Linked DNA regions of Homo sapiens: regions 1, 3, 4, 5 and 6 are each linked to region 2. Evidence: fine-mapped expression QTL. A gene starts in region 2. Each other region holds a variant in brackets. All regions are shown on one strand. Distances are between the middles of the regions. Region 1 overlaps FKBP15 (FKBP prolyl isomerase family member 15). Region 2 holds the start of FKBP15 (FKBP prolyl isomerase family member 15). Region 3 overlaps FKBP15 (FKBP prolyl isomerase family member 15). Region 4 overlaps SLC31A2 (solute carrier family 31 member 2). Region 5 overlaps FKBP15 (FKBP prolyl isomerase family member 15). Region 6 holds the start of RNF183 (ring finger protein 183).

Evidence for each region.
Region 1: its variant is fine-mapped to the expression of FKBP15 in whole blood (GTEx, PIP above 0.99).
Region 3: its variant is fine-mapped to the expression of FKBP15 in whole blood (INTERVAL, PIP 0.94).
Region 4: its variant is fine-mapped to the expression of FKBP15 in whole blood (INTERVAL, PIP above 0.99).
Region 5: its variant is fine-mapped to the expression of FKBP15 in whole blood (TOPMed, PIP above 0.99).
Region 6: its variant is fine-mapped to the expression of FKBP15 in whole blood (INTERVAL, PIP 0.91).

The regions. Positions count from the first base shown.
Region 1 is chr9:113,170,276-113,174,364 of GRCh38, forward strand. FKBP15 (FKBP prolyl isomerase family member 15) reads right to left here. Exons shown (of 28, transcript NM_015258.2): 23 at 3,178-3,330; 24 at 1,306-1,431; 25 at 247-354. Among named protein-coding and RNA genes, the nearest start is that of SLC31A2, 21 kb to the left of the region's middle. The variant C/A (reference allele first, on the strand shown) is at 2,297.
Region 2 is chr9:113,218,980-113,223,068 of GRCh38, forward strand. It overlaps FKBP15 (FKBP prolyl isomerase family member 15), which reads right to left and starts at 2,298. Exons shown (of 28, transcript NM_015258.2): 1 at 2,212-2,298. The coding sequence starts at 2,264. It overlaps SLC31A1 (solute carrier family 31 member 1), which reads left to right and starts at 2,565. Exons shown (of 5, transcript NM_001859.4): 1 at 2,565-2,699. RefSeq lists enhancers at 2,097-2,226, 2,337-2,446, 3,287-3,476.
Region 3 is chr9:113,197,997-113,202,085 of GRCh38, forward strand. It overlaps FKBP15 (FKBP prolyl isomerase family member 15), which reads right to left. Exons shown (of 28, transcript NM_015258.2): 7 at 1,818-1,967; 8 at 859-927. Among named protein-coding and RNA genes, the nearest start is that of FKBP15, 21 kb to the right of the region's middle. The variant T/C (reference allele first, on the strand shown) is at 1,577.
Region 4 is chr9:113,157,048-113,161,136 of GRCh38, forward strand. SLC31A2 (solute carrier family 31 member 2) reads left to right here. Exons shown (of 4, transcript NM_001860.3): 2 at 680-746. FKBP15 (FKBP prolyl isomerase family member 15) reads right to left here. Exons shown (of 28, transcript NM_015258.2): 28 at 3,959-4,089. Among named protein-coding and RNA genes, the nearest start is that of SLC31A2, 8.1 kb to the left of the region's middle. RefSeq lists a silencer at 876-1,077. The variant A/G (reference allele first, on the strand shown) is at 1,586.
Region 5 is chr9:113,186,020-113,190,108 of GRCh38, forward strand. It overlaps FKBP15 (FKBP prolyl isomerase family member 15), which reads right to left. Exons shown (of 28, transcript NM_015258.2): 13 at 2,370-2,472; 14 at 1,774-1,880; 15 at 230-344. Among named protein-coding and RNA genes, the nearest start is that of FKBP15, 33 kb to the right of the region's middle. RefSeq lists an enhancer at 1,516-2,715. The variant G/A (reference allele first, on the strand shown) is at 2,091.
Region 6 is chr9:113,302,547-113,306,635 of GRCh38, forward strand. RNF183 (ring finger protein 183) reads right to left here and starts at 830. Exons shown (of 5, transcript NM_001371237.1): 1 at 510-830. RefSeq lists an enhancer at 3,101-3,270. The variant T/C (reference allele first, on the strand shown) is at 2,132.

The sequences.
Region 1 (4,089 bases), 49 kb before region 2:
CCACCATACCCGGCTAATTTTTAAATTTTTAATTTTAGTAGAGACAAAGTCTCATTATGTTGCCCAAGCTGGTCTCAAGCTCCTGGCCTCAAGCAGTCCTCCCACCTTGGCCTCCCAAAATGCTGGGATTACAAGCATAAGCCACTGTGCCAGCTTTGAACAATTTTTTATTCATGATCCCTTAGAAGGTACTTAAGCAACAAAATGCCCAATACGATGAAACAAATGACAGCTGGCTGGCTGTACCTTGATCGTATTCATGATGGTTCCCAGAATGGTCCTGCCATTGTAAGATTCCTCCAGCTCAAACTCTCTCCGTAAGGACTGGAACACCTGGTTCATGATCTTCTTGACCTGTGTGAACATCAAAACACATGCTGTCAAAATCAAGTCACTAAAGGATGCATTAAATTCCAGAGAGGTGTATGGAAGGCCAAAATGAAGCCATCTTAGATCTCTACACTGGGATACTGCTGGTCATAAGCAGAGACACTGAAGGCTGTCACTGTGGAGAGGATGATATTAAATAATGAGCAGCACTTTGACAGAAGGGCTAGTCATGAGAGTTACCTATCAAGGGCAGGCAAGCTGTGGTCTGTGTGCCCAAGACTGCTTAAAGACCATTTCTTGATGTCCCCCTCCCACTGTGAGCACCACTAGGAGCTGCCATAGGCTCTAAGGGTCAGAGGCCAGTGGATGCTGGGCACACTCCCCAAGCCCCATTCTTCTTCTGTGGTTAGAGGCCCTTCCTATACCTGTCAAAACCTCAGAAAGATAGGGTTCTTTTGGGTTTGCCACTTAATATGTAAGTATGTATTTGTTTGTTTTCCCACTAGGCTGTAAGCTCCTTAAACTCAAGAACCAAATCTGGGCCGGGCATGGTGGCTCATGCCTGTAATCCCAGCACTTTGGGAGGCTGAGGCAGGCGGATCACAAGGTCAAGAGACCGAGACCATCCTGGCCAACATGGTGAAACCCTGTCTCTACTAAAAATACAAAAATTAGCTGGGTGTGGTGGCGCGTGCCTGTAGTCCCAGCTACTCAGGCGGCTGCGGCAGGAGAATCGCTTGAACCTGGGAGGCGGAGGTTGCAGTGAGCCAAGATCACATCACTGCACTCTAGCCTGGTGACAAAGTGAGACTCCGTCTCAAACAAACAAACACCAAATCTGGTTCATTTTAAAGTCATCAGACAAGTAAAACATCACTAAAGTTAGAAAAAGAGCTATTAACACAACATACTGGCCATGTTCTTTCTGAATGCTTGATATAAATGGCTTGCTTCTCATTTGAAATACCAGCTCACCTTCTCTGAGGGGTCAGATGCAGCAGCTTCAACCCCAGACATCTGGGACTTGTTCTTCTCTAGTTCCTTGATGTGCTGTTCATTTTGCTTGGTGAGAGCTGTGATTTGGGCCTGGAGGGCTAAACACTGCAAAACAAACAGACTGTGGCTGTGGCCTCAGGAACCAGGTGAAGGTCAGAAAACCCAAGGGGAGGAGAACCACCCAAACATCAAGTCTCTTTTTTTTTTTTTTGCATATAATAAAAAGACAATTTTATTTCAAATTCTTTTTTTTTATTATTATTATACTTTAAGTTCTAGGGCACATGTGCACAATGTGCAGGTTTGATGCATAGGTATACATGTGCCATGTTGGTGTGCTGCACCCATCAACTCATCATTTACATTAGGTATTTCTCCTAATGCTATCCCTCCCCCCGTCCCCCAACCCCCGACAGGCCCCGGTGTGTGATGTTCCCCGCCCTGTGTCCAAGTGTTCTCACTGATCAATTCCCACCTATGAGTGAGAACATGCAGTGTTTGGTTTTCTGTCCTTGTGATAGTTTGCTGGGAGTGATGGTTTCCAGCTTCAACCATGTCCCTGCAAAGGACATGAACTCATCCTTTTTTATGGCTGCATAGTATTCCATGGTGTATATGTGCCACATTTTCTTAATCCAGTCTATCACTGATGGACATTTGGGTTGGTTCCAAGTCTTTGCTATTGTGAATAGTGCCACAATAAACATACATGTGCATGTGTCTTTATAGTAGCATGATTTATAATCCTTTAGGTATATAACCAGTAATGGGATTGCTGGGTCAAATGGTAATTCTAGTTCTAGATCCTTAAGGAATCGCCACACTGTCTTCCACAATGGTTGAACTAATTTACACTCCCACCAACAGTGTAAAAGCGTTCCTATTTCTCCACATCCTCTCCAGAATCTCTAAACATCAAGTCTTAACCTCGCCTAGGTCTGCTGGTGTCCACTCCCTCAGCCCCCACCCA[C/A]GACCCTCTGCCTCAGAGAGTTCTATCTCCTCATCATTCGACTTCAACGCAAAACTTCACTTTCTCTTTCCCAAGAAGGTTGCTTGCCTTGTTCCCAATCAGGTAAAAAATATAATGAAAAAAGAGCAGGAGGGTAGGTAATAACTAGTCATTTAGACATAAACATTCAGCATTAACAGCAACCCATTTGTCATTCATCTGCAAGATTGCCTCCAAGATCTCTGAGCCAAAAGTTTTCAACTGGACACTTTAAGGAAAGAAACTGACCTCGAATATGGACTTTCACACCATGACCCTAAGCCATGTCCCATCTCTCTTTTTCAGGCCTGATGATCCCACCACACCCCAGCCTCCATCCTATCTCAGTGCCTTTGCCCAGGATGTTCTGCCTCCTTTGCTGCCTTACCAAAGCTATTTGTCCTTCTTGGCTCTGCTCAAATGTCACCACCTTTGGGAAACCTTCCCAGCTCTCCTGGGTACTTCCTCTTCTGGGCCCCATAGCACTTAACACCTATCTTTGTTTCTTTGTCTCCCTTTCTTGACTGTGAGATACATGAGGGAAGGGTTCCTTGTATGCACTTCCTTTAACACACTGGATGGAATACAACTGACTCTCAATAAATATTTGCTTAATAAATGAAGGATCCAATAATAATGGGAAACATGTTCCGGAACACTAGTGCTGTTTTCTCTTTTTCCAGGTCACTGACCTATCACCCCACATAAGTATGTGAAAGATAACTGACAAGCTAAACAAGTGTGGTTTTGTCTTCTAGATATTAATAACTTTCAGGCTTAGAAGGATCGACAGGACTCAAACAGCCTGCTTGCCTCAAATTAACTGGGCTGCCTAAACTGTCTGACTCAAGAAAAATATGTACCTTTTCCTGAAGTTGTACCAGCTTCTGCTGGTAGGCATCTCTCTGTGCGCACACCTCCTGGTACTGCTGCAGGTGCTCATCCTTGGCGGAGGCCAACAAATGTTCACATTTTGCTTCCCACTGGGTCTGTAGCTCAGCCTGTACTAAAGACAGCTGCCAAGAGAAAGTAATGACCATATCATCCTTGGGGGTGGGGGAGTGAGATTCCATTGCACCTAGGGAAACCCATCTTTCAAAAAGCAAAAGAATAAGCTAACAGCCCAGATTTAACTGGGAAACTGTTTAAAAGACTCATTACTTTTAAAATAAATGCACTTCTTAAGATGTCATTGGTTGTCAGGACTCCAAAAGGTACTCCAAGCAGACAAAAGTGTGCCTATCTAGATAGGTCCCTGGAGGGCAGGGCCATGTGATCACTGCTTTTCAGGGTCTGAACCCTAAACTTTATAGGTTCAGAAACTTTTTTTCACCAAAATTCCCAGAGGTGGTCAAATTGAGGGCACCAATGCACTCTAATTAAACAAATGTATGCATATAAATTTTAAGCTTATAATGAGAAAGGTTGCTGTTGCACAGACTAGAGATCCAGCTGTGTCCTGCCACTATCCCTGGTTCCCTTCCTGATGACCTAAATCAATCCCTTCTTTTCAAGGATGATAATGTGCCTGAAGGATGGTGTCCAATGGTTGATGGTTTTGGCCTTACCATGTTTGGAATTTTTTTTGTAAGGAAACTATTTTTCATTTTTACTTATGTAATTAAATATTAACTAAGCTTTAAAAAAAGAAAGAAGATTCTCCATTTGATTCCTGGCTCTCCTGCACATATCTGGATTACTTTTTCTACCTTTCTCCAAAGTGAGAGTATCAGCTATGAGAAATGTCATCCTAAAGGGTAAGGAAGAAACCAGAA
Region 2 (4,089 bases):
AAAATGCTTTGTGATTATTATTCCTGGATTGATTTTATTCTACTACTAAAATAAAAGTTTCTTAGGGGCAGAAACTGTGCCTTATTCCTATCTGGATTAGCTGAAGCCAAGTACTATTAGTTCATTACTATTACTTCCCACAACGGTGAGGAATGGGCTAAAACAAACTAACAAACAAAAACAAGGCTCCTGATTACTACTTCTAGATTAATAGTAAACTCTAAGAGGCCTAGAAACTCAGAAGGCAGATTATCAGATACTCCTACTTCTATTAGGCTTGAATATCCTTCATGAAATCAAGCAAATCATGTGTTTAAATCAAGAGACTTGGAACTTAAGCAAGTATACTTACAGTAATATATGGCTATAAAAGAGGAAGTGAAAAGTAGCTGCAGTATTCACTGTCATATGTTCTACTTCCTTAGAGAAAACCAAAAAAGGAATAGCTAAATCAGAGAATTGTGGTGAAACTTTCTGTATTCTCAGTGTTAAATTTGATTTGGTTTTCCTGATAACTGTGGGGAACAAAAATAAACTATAACTTTCCTCAGTATGTCTTTTACCATCAAATTAGCTGTTGTCTATGTCTAGGAGCACAGTCACATGCCTAGAATTCAAGTGTCTCAGATCCTTGAGAAGCCTGCTCAGGAAAAAAGAATAGTTGAGCCACCAAGAATTTATCTCTGGCCAGGAATCTGGAAAAGAGCACATGGCTGTCATTACCTATCCCATAATTTTCAGTCAGCTTGGACTGATTGTTGCATGAAAATTGGGAGCCCTAACATTACAGACTTCTCCCAAATACTTTCACATAGTGAAGAATGCGAATTTAAAGTGGAATAGGGAAAAAAGGAACAAAAGCACAGCTTAACTGTAAAATAACTGAGAAACGGAAAGAACTCAAAGTGGAACTAAGTGAATGCAGGCCATCTAAAGACGGGGTAGGAAGGGAACAGAGTGGTGAGAGTGAAAAAGACTAAAAGGTAGGTAATATAGAGCTAGTCAGTGTAAATCAAAAATTCCTACTTAAGGACAAAAGAAGGCCAGTGTCATTTTATGGTCATTCATCTATTAACTCATTTGTTTATGTATTGTCTATGACTACTCTCACCCTACAAGGCAGAACTGAGTATTTGTGGTTGCAATAGAAACCACATGGCCCAACAGATCTGGAAGCAACTTAAGGGCAGGCACAGCAGTTTAATCATTTTTGTAACCTCTTAGCATTTAGCAGAATAAGGGGCATATGTGGTGCATTTGTCATTTTTCCAGTACATTCTTCAGCACGCACAAAATTTGTTAAGCATATGTTCAAAGAAAAGCTCTGCAATGATCAGAGCTTGGTAGCTCACAAGTTTGGAGGAAGTCAAGCTGTCCACTGGCACAACACAATGGAAAAGGCTAAACTGACTACTAAAAGAGACAAAACCCTTCCTCTCTTTAAAGATTTCTATTCCAGGCTGGTATATATTAATATAATGCTTGGGGAAACTGGAGAATGACAGAAGTCTGTTACGTTGGTTTTAAGCTTTAAGCTTTACAAAGTGCAATTTCGCAGCTATTATTCATTCAACAGCCACTTCCTGAGCACTCACTATGTGCTAGGTACCATGCTGCATGCTAGACAGAAATGAACACCATAAGCAGTCCCTGTCCGGTGAGGACTCATAATCTAATAGGTGCGGGGTATAAGAATAGAGGCAAACACACCTAGCTGCAGGAATAAGGAAGAGAAAGCAATTCATTCTGCCTGAGGTTGCAGAAGGAAAAGCATCCAAAACGTGACATCCGAGCTGGGCCTTGAAGAATGCTAGAGCTGACCCACCAAGGCCTGGTTCTAAAGTGTCTTCGCCTTCTCCATGGAGAAAAGAAGTCTCACATCAGCCCCAGCTGACTCCTATAAAAATTCTGAGGCAGGAAGTCTCATCAGCAATCATTCCCATTTCACCGGAGAAATTGTGACCCAGAATGCAAAAGGCAAACCCAGGGCTATCTTCCCGCCAAGAGAGATGCCGGGTCCCGAACCTCAGATCGGCAGGGTCAGCACAGTTGCAAGTTCTGCCCAGATTCTGAGAGGTGTAGAGCACCGGAATGTGGCAAGGGTCTCCCCCCGGAAGTTGGGAAAAGGCCTGAGAAGAGATCGACCCCCCTCCAACAATCCGCCGGTATCTCTCAGCCACGCCCTCCAGCGCATACTTCTCAGTCACTCACCCGCCGCTCGGCGAGAGGAAATCGGTGTCGTCCTCGTCCCCCGCACCGAACATTGCGTTGGCTTTCACCGGGTTGCGGGGAGGAAGCTGGGTATTCCCAGAGTCCCAGGGCCTGTCACCGCCGACGTCGTAAAATGCCGCGGCGGCGTGCTGCTTTCCGGCAGGGCGAACTCCAGCACGGTCTCTGGACCGAAAGTAGACTGGGCTCTGGAGAAGGTGGGGCAAAGGCAAATGAGAGGCTCGCGCGGGCACGAGCGCCGAGTGACGTCAGGCCTCTCCAGCCCGCAGCGGGGCGGAGCTTCACAGCCCCTTGCAGGGATTGGTCGGTAATGCTAGGGGGCGGGAGGGGGCGGGAAATCCTCGGCCTCGGTGGCGGTGGTGGACACGTCGAGCCGGGTAGAAGTGGAGGGGCCGTTCGAAGAGTCGTGAGGGGGTGACGGGTTAAGATTCGGAGAGAGAGGTGCTAGTGGCTGGACTTGACCTGGAAAGGTAAGGCTTCTCTCGGCCCCTCTTTCGCACCCCTGTGCATGGGTACCGTCCTTTTCCCAGCGGGACAAGGACCTTCCTCGCCGCTTTCCTCAGCTCCGCGGAAGGAGAAAGAGCTCGGGACTGGAGGGTTAAAGACTGGGGCTTCGGCCCGGCCCCTGCAGTGGCATAGCCAGAGTGACCTTGGGCCGGGGTGCTCGGTGCCTCAGTTTCCCCGTGTATGCAACCGGCCATTTGTCCAGTTCTTCCATGTGCCTGCTGGTCCAGAAGATTTTAGAGCTCAGAGGCCATGGATTTCAATCCCGGCCTCCTCGTAATCTCAGAATTTACAGATAGGGAGACGAAGGAACTAAGCACCCGGGTGACTAGTCCGAGGTCACAAAGAGTAAAGGGCAGACTGAGACTGGATTCCTCGTCCTTTGATTCAGGACATAGTGAGCTAGTGGGTGAACAAGAACCTTATCAGCCCTTAAGCACTGTGTGCCCTTACAGAGTGACTATTGAAAGACTGTAGCATACACCTCGAGGAAAGTCCCCTTTCTAGAGTCCACCTGTATTCTACGCGGATGAGGTGCAGAAGAGCTAAGATATTCTGGCGGTGGGTGATGGAAAGGAGGATACTTTGGAGGCAGACACATCCCCACCCCAACTTTGGCGTGGGTTTCCCTGGGTCTTCCTGCGACAGCCCTAAATCAACATCAATTGTGGCGGACTCCTCTGCCTCCAGTTTCCACCCTATCTGTATCTTACATAAGTATTTCTTTGGTTAACCTGGTATCATTCTCGAAACAATCCTGGGGTAGTCCTGGCTTAGACAAGGTGTGGCTAAGGAGATAGTGTCCCAGCGTAGCGTCCACAGACTCACTGGAGTTCTTGGGCTTCCCCTCACAGTCAGGTTGGTACTACAGGTGTCCCTTACGTGAATGTTTCAATCTGTCAGTATGAAATTGAAATGAAATGATTGGTAGCTCCCTCCCAGAGAACTTTGCACCTCCTGGCAAAGATGTTAAAGCAGCGAAGGCTCACAGTTGGAATGATGCAACTGGAATCTAAGCACTAGAACCGGAACTGGAACTAGAATCTAAGGACTAGCACTAGAACTGTTGCAGTAGCTCTGTTTAGTGTGTGAACTTGGCTACCTCTTGGAGGTGTTGGGGGAGTAACTGGATTAAGTACCATGGCACTTTCTAATCCCTCTCCCCAACACCGGTCACTGTGATTGCAGCACTGAAACATCTAAATGTTTAACAGAAAGAGCTTGCTAGCCCCTGGCTTACATTATCTATGGTATTTTTAACATGGAATGAATACTTAAAGTCACTTGCAAAGCAGTCTCACTGCAGAATCTTTCTAGGTGTTTATGACATGTCCTTCCAGCCTTTTCTTTAAAAAA
Region 3 (4,089 bases), 21 kb before region 2:
TGATGCACCATCACTACTATGTCCTGACACCATAATATACCACATGTGTAAAACATTCTTTATTTTATAAAACACCTGCACAGTTAATAAAGAAAAAATTCACAACTTGAACCCAAGTTCTCGGATTTCAACCCCAGTGCTCCTCCTGCTGCTGTCACAGTTGCCTTCTACAGTGATTGGAAAGTGCTGATTCAAAGCAATCCAGACAGATGAGATTCAACCCTTTATGATAAGTTTCGAGAAGAAACTGTCTCACTTTTTCCCCTGTTAGGCTATAGGAAGGATGAAATAATATTCTCAGAGTCATAGAATGGAAAAGAAAAGGTCAGGACTACAGAAAACAATTGTAACCATCTTCAATGTAGTGTCTCATAGATAAAAATCTCCCAAATGCAATGTAACACATTTTCCCCTCGTATTCTTCATCCAGGCATTTCCAGATGTCAAAAAGATAACCTGATTAGAAATTCCACAGGCCGGACATGGTGGTTCATGCCTGTAATCCCGGCACTTTGGGAGGCTGAGGCGGGTGGATCACCTGATGTCGGGAGTTTGAGACCAGCCTGACCAACATGGAGAAACTCCATCTCCACTAAAAATACAAAATTAGCTGGGTGTGGTGGCGCATGCCTGTAATCCCAGCTACTAGGGAGGCTGAGGCAGGAGAATCGCTTGAACCTGGGAGGTGGAGGTTGCAATGAGCCAAGATCGTGCCATTGCACTCCAGCTTGAACAACAAGAGCGAAACTCCGTCTCAAAAAATAAAAATAAAATAAAAAAAGGAATTCCACAAAATTTAATCTAAGTTAAACCCACTGCAACTGATAAAACCATAAAAAAACACAGTTAAGCCTTTACCTTGATGACTTTTCCTGATCCTAACTTCAAGCGAAGCAACTTATCTTTGTTAGCAGTGGAGTCGAAAACCTGCAATTTGATCGAAGGAAATTAGGCCAGCCAATTTCAAAAATAATAATAACCATTATGATATTCAACTAACTACATACCAGCACACTACTTCTGGAATAGGGAATGTCAAATATACTGGGAAGATAGTTTCTAAAGGACCTGAAATATTAGCCCACATCATAGCTAAAGGGTATTATAATGAATATCTCTGAAACAGTAATTTTCCAGGTTTAGAAAAAAAACACATTACTACAACTGTGTATTTAAGCATTTTTCATCCACAATACACTTTCAAATAAATTATCTCATTTTGATGCTGACACTAACCCTGCCGAGTAAGCAGAGCAAGATCATTAGCCTCCATTCACAAATGGAAAAAAATAAGAGTATAAATGACTTGATCAAAGTCAAATTAGTATATAATTGGATCTCTAATTCAGATTTTTCTAAACTCATAGTCTAAAGGTCTTTCTCTCATATAATATATTGCTTTTAAGGGCTCAATAATATTAAAACACAGTAAGTTCAATGTATTTACAGTATCTACTATAAGAAAAACTATAAGGAGGGTCTAAAAAGAAGTTTTAAGACTTAATCCCATAAGAATATATTCAAGTGTAAAACTGGTATAGGAGGACAAGACATACACATGAACAACTAGCAAAAA[T/C]AATAGTACTGGGGAAATTGGTTCCCACTTTCCCTAAGTAGAAGTGACAGGGTGGCACTGAGGATCTTTTACACATTCACATTTCATAATATGCCCCCAAAGCAATTGCAGTGTCTAAAGTGGGGATCCTAAAATATTTCTATTTGACAACAGCAGCCGTTCACAGTAATAGTATCTTCCCTGGGAATAGCCCTCATGCTATATAAGTTTACAAAAGAACTTGCAGGGTGCATTTTCTTACCTGGCCCAGCACATGATTCTGAAAGAGCCAGCCGGTATAGGCCACTTCCAAAGAATCTCCAACTTCTACAGCAGGGCCGTCTGCCACAATGAGGTCCTGGGAGAGCACTGCATCCAGGGAAGAGGTACTGTTGCACTTAGCAATGCACACCTGCAAGACAAAATCAAAGCAGCATAAATGTAGTTTAAGCTCAATAAGTACTCATTCCTTTATTGCTACTGCTCTTTCTCAAATAGCTTCATCCACTAACAAAACAGATTACATGTTTAGAAGTAAACCAAACGGAAGCCAGTTATCTTGCCAGGGATCAAAGTGCCTAGGAGTATGGCTTTGCAGTCAGAATGTCTGGGTACAGATCCAGGCACTGCCACTTATTAACTTTGTGACCCTAGCCAAATAATCTCTATGTACCCAAGATGGAGATGATGCTTCACAAATCTCATAGGATGGTTATGAAAATTAAATGAGCTAATATAAGTAGAGTACTTGACAAGGTACCTGGCAAATAATAGTAAGTACTTAATAAACATTAGCTATTGATGATGATACTGATTTACTGTTTCAGTGTTTGGGAACCTAGGAAAGAAAGGGGAGCTTTGAAAAAACGTCAGAAGGCACTTCTAAAGACTGCAGTAGAAAGAAGGGCATTTAAAAAATCATGTTGCATTCCCAGAATCCACATCAATACTATCTACAGATTTGGCCATATTATCTTAGCACAAATCTTAGACAAAGGAGTCAGGGGCATCTTTGTGAATAATTATTCTATTCTATTTATGAATAATTATTCTTGGGCTTGTGTTTTAATATTATTAAGCCCTCAAAAGCAATATAGTATGAAAGATCTTTATGAGTTTAGAAAAATGTGGATTTGAGACCCAATTTTATCAGTGTTTTAACATAGTATCCATTAGGAACTTGCGGCTCATTTTCTTTTAAAAAGTTTCAGAGGCTGGGTACGGTGGCTCACACCTGTAATCTCAGCACTTTGGGAGGCCGAGGTGGGCGGATCACAAGGTCAAGAGATCGAGACCATCCTGGCCAACATGGTGAAACCCTGTCTCTACTAAAAATACAAAAATTAGCTGGGAGTGGTGGTGTGCGCCTGTAGTCCCAGCTACTTGGGAGGCTGGGGCAGAAGAATCGCTTGAACCCGGGAGGCGGAGGTTGCAGTGAGCCGAGATGGCACCACTGCACTCCAGCCTGGCGACAGAGCAGGACTCTGTCTCAAAAAAAAAAAAAAAAAGAGTTTCATTATTGTAATCAAATAAAAACAATGAGGCATCATTTTTTTTTTTTTAACCAAGTGAAGAAGACCAAAAGAAAAAAAGGATCATTCTAAATGCTGGCAAAGGTACGATGAGAAAATTGATATAAATGTGAAATAGTACAATCTCTCTGAAAAGCAGTGTGCCAAAGTGTATTAAGAACCTAAAAATATCTGGACCTTTTGACCCAATCACTCACTTACTGAAATAAAGCTTATGGAAATATGTAGGGGGGAAAAAAGGACAGACTTCTATAAAAAATGCTCACCACGGTATCATTTACTGCAGAGACAGAAAACAATCTAAATGCACAACATAAGGTAATGATTACATCAATTAAGAAACAAATGTTATGGGCTGAATGTTTGTGTCCCCTCCGAATACTTACACTGAAATCCTAATTCCCAGTGTGACAGTATTAGGAGGTGGGGCCTTTGGGAAGTAAGTAAGCCAGGAGGGTGGAGCCCTCATGAATGGGATTAGGGACCTTATTAAAGAGATACAGAGAACTCTCTCACCCTCTTTCTACCATGTGAGGATACAAGAAGAAGATAGTCTGCAACCCAGAAGAGGGTCTCACTAAAACCCGACCGTGCTGGCACCCTGATCTCAGACTTTCAGCCTCGAGAACCGTGAGAAATAAATTTCTGTTGCTTAACCAGACTATGGTAATTTGTTACGGTAGCTTGAACTGACAACATGCATATTATGCAGCCTTCAAAAATGTTTCCAAATAGTTTTTCATGAGGTAGGAAAAGATGAATTATACATTTTTAAATAAAATAAGCATGATAAAGAACTATTAAAGGACTGTATCTACTTATGTATATTATGCATAGAAAAAAGGAAATATGTTAATAGTGGTTACTTTGAGTAGTAAGACTATGAGTGATTTTTTTTAATGCTTTTCTAAATTTTCTACAATGAGTATGTAGTAACTTAACTCTCTTTCTTGCTCTCTCTATCTCTTTCTCTCTCTTTCTTTCTTTTCTTGTACAGATGGG
Region 4 (4,089 bases), 62 kb before region 2:
CCTGAACACAAGGTGGAGCAAGCACCCTCTGAAAAGGCATCTGACAGGCACTGCATGGTCACTGCTTTTACCTGCAGTCTTTCCTGTAAGGCTGTGAACTCACCAAGGTCAGAGACATTAACCTACTTCCATAATGCTTGGCACACAAACTGGGCTCAGCAAATGTATAGTGAATGAGTAGGCAGATGTGGAGTACAGTGAAGACAGCTGCCTCTGGGCCCCTCCACGATAAACACTGTGGGATCTGTCTAGACTGAACAGGACAAAGAGGACTCCAGGCTTCCATCACACGGGAGCCTGTTCTGGAGCTGCAGCAGAATGGCTAGGGTCCCGGGGGGGTAAGAAGAGGCAGTTGCACTTGGAAGGCATGGAGGGGACATCCCCACATAGTCTGAGGACACTGTCACATCCCGAGCCAGTTGGTCCAGTGAGGATGGACACTCCCACACCTCTATTCTCATATGGAGCATGGCCAGCTCAATTATAGCTCTGCTGCTGACCCTCTTGGGCAAGTCTCAGCTCTTTATGGCCTCAGTTGGCCCTGATGACTTCTGATGGCCCTTCCAGCACTTCCAGTGACCCCATTTTTCTGGGCTCCCAGAGGAGGTGCTGGAGAGCATTAAGGACCGTAACTTCCACTGCCCTGTGCCCCTATGATGCAGATTCCTTTCTCTTTCAGATGCATTTCATCTTCTCAGATACAGCGGTGCTTCTGTTTGATTTCTGGAGTGTCCACAGTCCTGCTGGTAAGAATTGGGGACCTCAGACTTGTAGCTTGGAAAGCCTTGTAGTACTAGGCAAGGGAGAATCTGGGTTCTCTTGATTCTCTGTGGGCATTTAAGTGAGGCTGATTCCTCTGGCATAAACACTGAGCAGGAACTTCACAGTTATAATTCCATTTGTAACCACTCCCCTTCAGATCGCAAAGGGCTCCATTATCTTACTGATCCTCACAAAGGCCGAGAGGCAGGGAGGCAGCTTTTCCCTCTGTTACAGGGCAAGAAACTAAAGCCCAGAGACAGGAAGAGAGACTCGTGCAGGGTCACACAGTAAGTACGCATCAGAGCCACTACTAGATCAAGGCCTCCGGGTGTCACCTGGCACCTCCCTTATCCAGGGCTCATTGTTCTGCACCAGTTCAGAAGCCCACAGCAGCTGCTGGAGATGAGACACCAATTTGAAAGGAAAGAATATTCCTTTGATTTGAAAAGGCAGAGTTTGTCACTAATTCATGAAGAAGTTATTTTTCAACTTAAATAACTGCATCTTAAAAAGAGACTGGAAACAGCCCAAATGCCCATTATTGCGGGTGCAGATTAAATAAATTATGGTCAGCCCTACAATGGGTTACTATTTCTTGTTATCTATTGCTGAATAAACAGTGGCTTAAAACAAGTCATTTTATCATTCTCTCTCAAGGTTCTGTGAGTTGACTGGACCCAGGTGAGTGGTCCTTACTGAAGGTCTCTCATGCAGTATAGTCAAACAGTGGCTGGAAGTAGGGTCATTTGGAAGAGTTCCTCACTCTCATGCCAAGTGGCTGATACTGGTTGTTAGCTAGGACCTCAGCTGGAGTTGTTGGCTG[A/G]ACACCTACATGTGGCATCTCCTATGGCCTGGGCTTCCTCGTGGCAGAGTGGCTAGATTCCAAGATCGAGTGTCGCAAGAGAACAAGGTAGAAGTACGTGGGATTTTCAAGACCTAGCCTTGGAAATCAGATAAAATTACTTCTACCTTTATTGGCTGAAGCAGTCACGAAGGTCTTCCTAGGCTAAAGGAGAGGGAACAAACATGGACCCCACCACTTGATGGCAGGAGTGTTGACATCATAAGAAGGGGATGTGGGGTGGGATACATTGGAGTGGCTGTCTTTGGAAAATGTAATCTATCACAGATACGATGAAGCCACTGGGGAAAAGGTAAATCTGTGTGAACTGAGGTAAAACTGGATGATAAAGTCAAATGCAAAACAGTATGCGTAGATAGGATGCTGTCATTTGGACAAACAGAGGCTGATATATACATTGAGTAACAGAGGTTGCTCTGGGGAGGAGAATTGGGGTGAAGAGAGATTGGGGTGGGAAGAAAACTGATCTTTCTCTTTTTTTGAAATGGAGTCTCTGTCGCCCAGGCTGGAATGCAGTGGCGCGATCTTGGCTCACTGCAATCTCCACCTCCCAGGTTCAAGCAATTCTCTTGCCTCAGCCTACCGAGTAGCTGGGACTACAGGCAGGCACCACAATGCCCAGCTAATTTTTCTGTATTTTTAGTAGAGACAGGGTTTCACCACGTTGGCCAGGCTGGTCTCAAACTCCTGACCTCAAGTGATCCACCCACCTCGACCTCCCAAAGTGCTGGGATTACAGGCATGAGCTACCACACCCGGCCTGAATTTTCATTGTATTCTTTTTTGCACTGTTTGAAGTTTCACCATGTACATGAAATTACCTATAATTTTATGTTTTAAAAACCTGCATCTGTCAGATGATTTCCTCCTGGGAGCCTGTGGGAAAAAAAACCCAACTTTTTCCTTTTCCTACGCTCCACACACTTCTGTGACCAGATGTGTAGGCTTTCCCTCAGTGACAACTTTTCTGATACCAGCTGGGTGTCCTACAACTCAGTTCAAATCTGACACTAACCAGAGTTAGTGCAGATCCCACAAGTTAAGGGTACAGTCCCACAAGGCTGCCCCCTGCTTCAGGCACCAATTGCAAGTCCCAGCTTGTCTCCCGTACTTCTGGCCAACTGGCTATATGTCAGGGTTCCCATAACGCCTTTGTTGGGATCAATTATTTGATAGAATGGTTCACAACACTCAAGGAAACACTTAAAAAGAGTACAAATGGGCCAGGTGTGGTGGCTCATGCCTGTAATCCCAGCACTTTGGGAGGCCGAGGCGAGTGGATCACCTGAGGTTAGGAGTTCAAGACCAGCCTGACCAACATGGTCAAACCCCGTCTCTACTAAAAATACAAAAAAATTAGCCAGGCGTGGTGGGGGGTGTCTGTAATCCCAGCTACTTGGGAGGCTGAGGCAAGATAATTGCTTGAATCCTGAGGCAAGATAATTGCTTGAATCCAGGAGGTGGAGGTTGCAGTGAGCCAAGATTGCGCCACTGCACTCCAGCCTGGGCAACAGAGCGAGACTCCATCTAAAAAAAAAAAGTACAATGAATAGCTGTGTGGAAAAGATGCATGGGGCAAGGCATGTAGGAGGGGGTTCAGAGCCTCCAGGCCCTCCCTGGGCTTGCCACCTTCCAGGTACCCCCATGTGTTCACAGCAGCTGGAAGCTTTTCAAATCCTGTCCTTTTAAAAAAAATTATTCATATATAATAGTTGTACATGTTTTGGGGTACACGTGATATTTTGATACCTATATACAATATGTAATGATCCAATCAGGGTGACTGGGGTGTTTATCACCTCAAACATTTATCTTTGTGTTGGGAACATTACAATTCTATTTTGAAATATACAATAAATTATGGTTAACTATAAATTTCCCTACTGTACTGTCGAATACAACAACTTATTCCTTCTATCTAAACTGCATTCTTTTGGGTTTCTATGGAGTCTTCATATGGAGGAATGATTGATGACCTCATTGGCCACTGGTGATCAATTCAACCTTCAGTCCCTGTCTCCTTCCAGAGGTAGGGAGTGGGGCTGAAAGTGCCAACCTCCAAGCACAAGTTTGGCTCCCCTGGCAACCAGCCCCCATCCAGGAGCCTCAGCCATCAGTCATCTCATTAGCATATAAAAAGACACCACTTGACAGCGTTTCCAAGGGTTCTAGAAGTCGTGTGCCAGGAAACCAGGGCAGAAACAGGATATATATCTCTTATTATGTCGCAGAGTCCAGTAAAATACTTTAGCTGGACCACTTATTATCCCTCTTAGTGAAACAAAAGTAGTAATTAACAGTTAATTTTACACAGCAGCTCTAATAAGCACTTGATAGTTTTGGTAAAATAATTTATTGGGTTTTTCCCCTATTATAAAAGTAATATATATAAAAGAAACCTTAGAAAGTTAGGCAAGAACATAAAAACCACCTGTATCCTACTTTGCTGAGATAACTATTACTCT
Region 5 (4,089 bases), 33 kb before region 2:
AATAGGATTGTAGTGATGAATGCACAACTCTGCAAATTTACTAAAACACTTTTGAATTGCACATTTAAAATGAATGAATGTGTGGAATACATATTATATCTCAACAAAGCTGTTAAAAAAGAGAAGAAACAATGAGTAGAGAGCTGTTGGTGTGAAAATGAAGGAGGAGCAAGAAGAGGGAAAGCACAGCAAGAGCGGAAGATGAGAAACTGAGGGAATTACTCCCTACCTTGGAAATGGGGAGGCTGAGAGAGCGGTGCTGGGTACAAAGGCCGAACGGGCTGCAGCTGGGAGGTGACGGCAGATGCCTGGGGATAAGCGTAGGCTTGCATACCTGCATAGGGCTGAGAAACTGACGAGTTACCACTGGTTGATAAAACATTCATGTCTTTCTTTTTTGTTCACATTTTTCTTTGGTGGAATAAAGTGGATGAGCTGGGAGGAGACTCAAACTTACTGAAGCTAGAGATGGGTGAGATCTGGGTTTGGCAGTTGGTAAGGACTGCAGCAGGAGAGTTATCTATGTATCCCAGGGGAAACCAGTCACTAAAATCCTACCCAGAAACTGAAGAAAGTGTATCTTAGGTCACTACCCAGTCATCTGGTGAGATAATTAAGCAGGGATTCATTCCCCATTATCAGGCCTATTGTCTAAGAAGTTTTTAGATTAATAAACTCTGCTTAGCTTCCATTGAGTTTAAAGAAGAAGTGCTCACTGAGATTCCAAACCAAATCTGCCAATTTCCAAGGATGCCTCTCCCCTGCTAGATTCTGAAGCTAATCCACGAGACCAAGAGCTCTCATGTTCCTTTGAGTCTCGGTCACCTCAACTGTAAGAGGAAGATAATAATATCACTTCATAGGGCTGTTCTGTGGACTAAATGAAGTGAGATAGGTAAAGTTCTGAAAAGCTAGTAAGTTACAGGCCTGACAGATAGTAAGCGCTTAATAAACAGCAGCTTTTATTTTAATGAGGATGGTAATTCTTCCTTGAAATAAGGAAGTCTAGCTCATTTCCAGGGATAGATATAACTACGCATCCACTTAAAAAAAATTCTTAGTCTACAGCATAGTAATTCTCCATGGAGGAGAGGAGGGATGGGGAGAAAGAGGGCAACAGTGGGACTTTTTCCAGTTTCGAGACTCCCCATGTTAATGAGGCATAGCCTATCCACCATCATTCCCACACCTCCATTAAGCATCACAAGGAGTGAGCAGCTGTTCCCAGTGACAGTATGCCTTATCCACCAAGTGTGTTGAGGCAGAAGAAAGGGTCTGCTACCCCTGGCAAACAGGCTGCTGCCATTGTTTTCTGTGATAACAGGAAAAAGGCCTTCTTTAAGAAAAGTTTACTAGATAGCAGAGTCAAGCTACATTTTCCACATGGTTCCACTTTTAAACCATACCATTCTGCTGAATATACTGCAGAATGTTAGCCTGCCAACTTTTAGTAGAAAAGAATACAGAAGAACGCGAATATACACGCTTCAACTGGATATGTGTGAAAAGAAAAGGAAACAAACATTGATTGCATCTTTACTACGTTGTACTAGGGGCTCTACTTGTTCTTGCATTTAATCTTTATGACACTGGAACGTAGGTTATCCTTTGCCTGGTTTAGAGATGAGAAAGTGGTAACCAAGGAAGGGAAAAAAATTACAAACTCTGACTTTGGGGAACTGCTACTGTATGAAATGTACAGGAAGAAGAAAAGAGACTGACTAGAACCACAGCAAATTATAGGATATAATTAATACGGTTATAAAATGTTACCTGAAAGGATTGGGCATTTCCAGATACAGCTGAGTGGGAATCGAGAGATGACACTTGCATTAAGGCAGCAGAAGGTGCCTGGAGCCCAGTAACAGATGGCTGAGGTGCTAAGATAAAGGGAGACATTTTCACTGTTATCCACCCTTGCTTCTTGGTGTGAGTCTAGACTAGCACCTTACATACTATCATGCTTCAGACTCAACTATTTTCCTTGCCTAGTCTCCCTACACTCAGCTCTACTGCAATCTCAGGAATGAGCCAGTGGAAGGAAACTGGGTGCTCTCATGTGCTTCTGACTCAGCCCTAGGATCCCACCC[G/A]ACAGGAAGTGCAGAACACACCCAGGGAGATGTCTCAATAGCTGAGTGCAGATTTCCAAAACTGACAGTGCAACACAGCAGAAGTCACAACCAGCAGCCAGGTCCATCTCTGGGTATGAAAATGCCTTACCCAGGGACAAACTGACAAGCGTCACACTCTTACATTTACACTTTAGTCCTCAGTACTGAAACAATGCAGCCTAACAGTTTAAGGAACAGTGACGATAATTTTCATGCTGACCCAGTTCAAGGCCACAGAGCCTCAGAGAGGTTCCTTACCCTGTGAGGTCATCTGTGGTAACGCTGGATGGGCCGGATGAAGAGAGGGCTGGACGGACGGAGTCACCACAGGCTGCCCACCTCCTTGCAGAGTGTTCACATCCTGAAACAGGAACAAGCGTTTGGGTTACTCTGTACGGGGTCCCTCATTGAAGACTGAGGCTGACTGTCTGCCCTAAACCTGCTTCCAACACAGGATTTCTAGGCAAAGAAGAGGAAGGAAAGGTAAGCGGAAGGCCAAGAGTTGAGGGTGTGGGTTGTGGAGAAAAAGCACTCTGCTATGCAATAAAGTAAGAGTCCTTCTCCCTATAATCATATTGAATAAGTAAATATAGTTAATTTCCACAAATATTCTCAGAGGTTGATGTTCTATTGTCTGAAGCAGCTAAACTAACCACTCTTCAGAATGTATCATTTTCCAAGCCAGTAACTGCCTTAAGACAAATCTAATCTATTCCCACAAAAAAAGTGGTCTTTTGCAAGAAATAATCCAGCCTCTTCGCTTCTTACAAATCATCCCCATAGTCCTCAAGGTACTCAATGAAAATCAGATAACGTAGGATTCACTGCACCTGATTAACATGCTGTTTTTGGATAATATAGTTTTAGGATGTTTTTCCAACATTCTTTATTTTCATAAAACCAAAGCTTTTCATAAAATCAAAGCTATAACTCTAAACAAAGTTATTCTACCTCCTGCTTCATATAAGAAACAGAAAATCTTGAGGCACAATATACAGTGACTGTAATCTGCTATGCTATAGTTCAAAGACCAAAGTTTCAGACATTCTTTTACTTTAGAACTTCACCTTGTCCCCTTATATTCTCTTCTAGAAAAACATCCCAGTTTTAGATTTCTACAGCTCTTAACCAACCTAAATGTCTAATAACAGAGTGAAAGGAATTATAATAAAATGATATAATGGAACACTGGGTTTCCTTTAAACCACTTTATTTACTTAAATCATTTATGTTAATGTAAATGTTTATGATACAACATTAGGTTTAAAAATCAGGTTACAAAGCAATATATAAAGATGAATGCCCTTTTTGTTCAATATGTTTCTTTTCTATAATTTTAAATTATTCTAAAATGAATAAGTAGCACATAAAATTTTTAATAAAAATATTCTTATTTACACTGCATTTCCAGACCAGAAAAAAATAATCCTATAACAATAGGCCTCAGAAATCCTATCTTCCTTTAAGATGTTAAATCTACATAGAGCTTTTCCAAGAAATAAAACAAAAATGTAAAATATAAAGTATATTCCAGAAAAAATTTTTTCAAGACCATCGCCCTTTCCTTGTTTTCTATCAAAGTAAAAGAATACTAAAAATCAGTCTAAGTTATATATTTCACTTCAATTGAGAAAGGACGATTATATTCAATAAAGAACTAACCACTAGAGAAGAATTAAGTTAAAATTAAGTTACTTTATAGCATACACCAAATTCCAAATGGATTAAAAATTTAGATCTAATTATAAAATATTGATCAATATCTTTAAAAATACATGTGATATTTATAATCTGAAAGTGGAGAGGCTTTCTAAGCATAATGTCAAAAGCAAATAACAAGGGGAGAAAATTGACAGACTTGAATTCAATAAAATTATTGAACTTCTAAATAGAAAACAAACACAAGAATACCACATACAAAGTCAAAAGACATACTAGTTGGAGCTTTAGTGATAGGCAACATCAGCGAGAAGACCAA
Region 6 (4,089 bases), 84 kb after region 2:
ATCTAGATAGGTTACTAGCCTTTTGGGATTTTTTGTTGTTGTTTGCAGAAAGCCATTTGATACTCTAAAACCACCCTGTGAGAGAGGCTGAATGGGGAGTAGAAAGGTGCCGGCTTTGGAACCAGATTTGGAACAATTTGTCTTGGACAAATGGCTTAACCTCTCTGAACTTCATTTTCCTCTGTAAAAAAGGCTAATCATCCCACTCCTACAAGGTTGCTCTGGGGAAGGAATAGTCTATACGGTGCCCAGTAGAATACGGAAGGCGCTCAATACAGAGTTAGCATGATTATTTTTAGACCCATTTTCTAGATGGGGAAGCCAAGGCTCAGAAGGGTGAGGCAACTTGCCGAAGTCTTCCCAGCTAAAGAGTGGCTGAGTTTGAAAGATGAACCCAGTAGCCTGCCCTCCCAGGCCAGAGTTCACCTGTCGCGCGCTGCACGGCTGCTGCCTCTCTGGACTCTGGAGCCCTGTGACCCGTCCCTCCGCGACCCTCTCTGTCTCCTTACCTGCTCCCTCGGAGCCGCCTCCTCCGCCTCCGTTCGTGCAGCCCTGCACGCATGTGCTTTGTTTTCTGACTTCCCAGGCCCGATTTCCAGGTAGCGTGGGTGGGTCTTATTTGCATAGGTCTTAGCAGCGTTTGGCCAGCTCTCGCTGTTTCAGGTTTTCTTCTTCCTTCTGGTGACTTTGGACCTCCTGTACACCCTGGAAGCTTTGGTTGCTTTGTCTTTCTCCTGTGAGTCACTCTGGCTTTTTCTCTGAGGGGATCAAGTGCGCTCATCCTTGCAGGCCTCTGTTCTGGGTCCGATTGATCTCCTGCCATCCCCTCGGATTCCACTGTCCTCTGTGCGCTGACCTGCCTCGACTCCTGGCTTCTGCCGAGATGGATCCTTCCCTATGCTGAGTCCCTGTAACCAAAATACAGATAGCTCTTGCAAAATACTGACAAAAGCGGCCACTAATACAGCAGAAAAATAGTCGGGAGACGGTTGAGCGTCTGCCTGAAGAGCCAGGGTTCTCAAGCAAGGCACACTTCTAGGTCAGAGTTCAGCCCTCACTGAGAATCCAAACTCCGTTTAACTACCGATGGAGACTTGAGCAAATTAATTAACTTCTGCCAGCCTCAGTTTCCTCACCTGAAAATGGCCATAATAACCTACCTACTTGATCTGTAGATTAAATGAGGTAATACGTGTCGAGATCGCGTAATAACACAGGGCCTGGCAGACAGTAACTCGCTAAATGTTAACCAGAACTATTATTGTTATAACCGGTCTGTTCACGTGGCCCATCTTTTGTTCCCGCTCAAATTCTTTTTGTACCTATGGTCCTCTTTTCTTTCTCTCTCTCTTTCTTTCTTTTTTTTTTTCTTTCTTTTTTTTTTTTTTTTTTAAGACGTAGTTTTGCTCTGTCGCCCAGGCTAGAGTGCAGTGGGGCGATACTGGCTCACTGTAACCCCCACCTCCCTGGTTCCAGCAATTCTCCTGCCACGGCCTCCCGAGTAACTGGGACTACAGGTGCGCGCTACCATGCCCGGCTAATTTTTACATTCTTAGTAGAGACAGGATTTCGCCTTGTTGGCCAGGCTGGTCTCAAACTCCTGACCTCAGGTGATCCACCTGCCTCGACCTCCCAAAGTGCTGAGATTACAGGCATGAGCCACCGCGCCTGGCCCCTTATTTCTTTACTGACATTTTCAGCCATACTTGAGAAATAAACAAGTAAATAAATGTATCTGCTTGGTGATGTAATCAAATGCCCTAGTCCCCGCATTTTGTGTTTTTTTACATTAATTTTTATGTATTGATTTATTTTGAGACAGAGTCTCACTCTATCATCCAGGCTGGGGTGCGGTGGCACGATCACAGCTCACTGCAGCCTCAACCTCCTGGGGTCAAGCAGTCTTCCCACCTCCGCCTCCTGAGTACCTAGGACTACAGGTGCATGCCACCGTGGCTGGCTAATTTTTGTATTTCTTGTAGAGATGGGGTTTCTCCAGGTTGCCTAGGCTGGTCTCAAACTCCTGGGCTCCAGCAATCCACTTGCCAAAAGTGCTAAGATTACACTTGAGCCACCGTGCCCACATTTGATTTTTAAATAGGTAATATATTTACATGGTTGAGCATGTGAA[T/C]GGTTTGATTTCACAGTGAAAACTGTCTCTTCGCAGCCACCTAGTTTCCCTGGAAATCAAAGTATTATACTATCAGTTTGTTGTGTATCTTTCCAAAGATGTTTTATACATACACAAACAGCATGTCCATGGCAAAACATCTATGTATTCCTTTACCTCCTTTTTACACAAATGTGCATATTATGTACACTGTTCTGCATTTTTCTTTTTTCATTTGATGATGTATTTGAGATATCATTCTGTATTAGTACATAAAGACCTTCTTCGGTTTTTGGCCCAGCGCTGTGACTCACACCTGTAATCCCAGCACTTTGGGAGGCCAAGGCGGGTGGATCACTTGAGGTCAGGAGTTCAAGACCAGCCTGGCCAACATGGTGAAACCCCGTCTCTACTAAAAATACAAAAATTAGCCGGCGTCATGGTGCACACCTGTAGTCCCAGCTACTCAGGAGGCTGAGGCAGGAGAATCGCTTGAACCTGGGAGGCAGAGGTTGCAGTGAGCTGAGATTGTACCACTGCACTCCAGCCTGGGCGACAGAGCAAAAAAAAAAAAAGAAGACCTTCTTCGGTTTTTTAATGGTTGTATCAGATTTCATTGAATGGCTGTACCATAAATCACTTCACCAATCCCCTATTGATCTAACCCCCTCATTATAAATATATAAATATTGAATGAAAGAATAATGCAAAAATGCTGATTTTAAGTTAGCCTAGAATTGTGTGAAAATAAAACTGTGGACTTTGGGAAGTTTTAGATCTCTAAAGAAAATGTCTAAGTAATTCTCCTCTTTCTGAGCTGGAGACGAGGTATATGATCACCGATGGCCTCAAAGTTCCTCTCAGCTCTGGAATTCCCTGCTTTTCGGTGTCACTACTGGTTAACTGAGGTTACTGGGGATTCGAGACACTGATTTAGTCCAAAGAACCTGGTTTGTATTTGAGAGTTTGGAAGTCACGCTTTCTGGCTTGGCAACATAAGAAAACATAAAGAAGTTCATCTACTTTGACCTAATCATGTAATTCCCCAGAAGCATCAAAAAGATATATTTTGGTTGAGTGAGGATATTCATTGCAGTTTTATTTTAATCACAAATGATTGAAAACACTCCAAAACCCCATCAATTAGGTGAAAAACTACATAATCATTTAAAATGATATAGAAAGATTTTCATTGACTTTTAAAAATGGTCACAGTATACTGTAAATGGAGGGGGAAAGCAGCTTAAAAATGGTGCATGTTGGCCGGATACGGTGGCTTACGCCTGTAATCCCAGCACTTTGGGAGGCCGAGGCAGGCGGATCACAAGGTCAGGAGTTTGAGACCAGCCTGGCCAATATGTTGAAACCCCGTCTCTACTAAAAAATACAAAAAAAAAAAAAACTTAGCTGGGCGTGGTGGCAGGTGCCTGTAATCCCAGCTACTTGGGAGGCTAAGGAGGCAGGAGAATCGCTTGAACCTGGGAGGCGGAGGTTGCAGTGAGCCGAGATTGCACCACTGCATTCCAGCCCAGGCAACAGAGAGAGAATCCATCTCAAAAAAAACACAAACAAACAAACCAAAACCAAAACAAAACAAAACAAAAAAACGGTGCATGTTGGCTGGGCACATGCCTATAATCCCAGCACTTTGGGAGGCCGAGGTTGGAGGATTGCTTGAGCCCAGGAGTTCAAGACTAGCGACCCCATTGCTACAAAAAATAAAAAAATAAAAAATTAGCTGGGCGTGGTGGCACATGCCTGTTGTCTCAGATACTCAGAAGGCTGAAGTGGGAGGATCACTTGAGCCCAGAAAGTCAAGGCTGCAGTGAGCCCAGATTGCACCACTGCACTCTAGCCTGGGCAACAGAGCAAAGACCCTGTGAAAGATAGAAAAGAAAAAAAGAAAGAAAAGAAGAAAAGAGAGGGAGAAGGAAGGAAGGAAAGAAGAAGGAAGGAAGGGAGGGAGGGAGGAAGAAAGG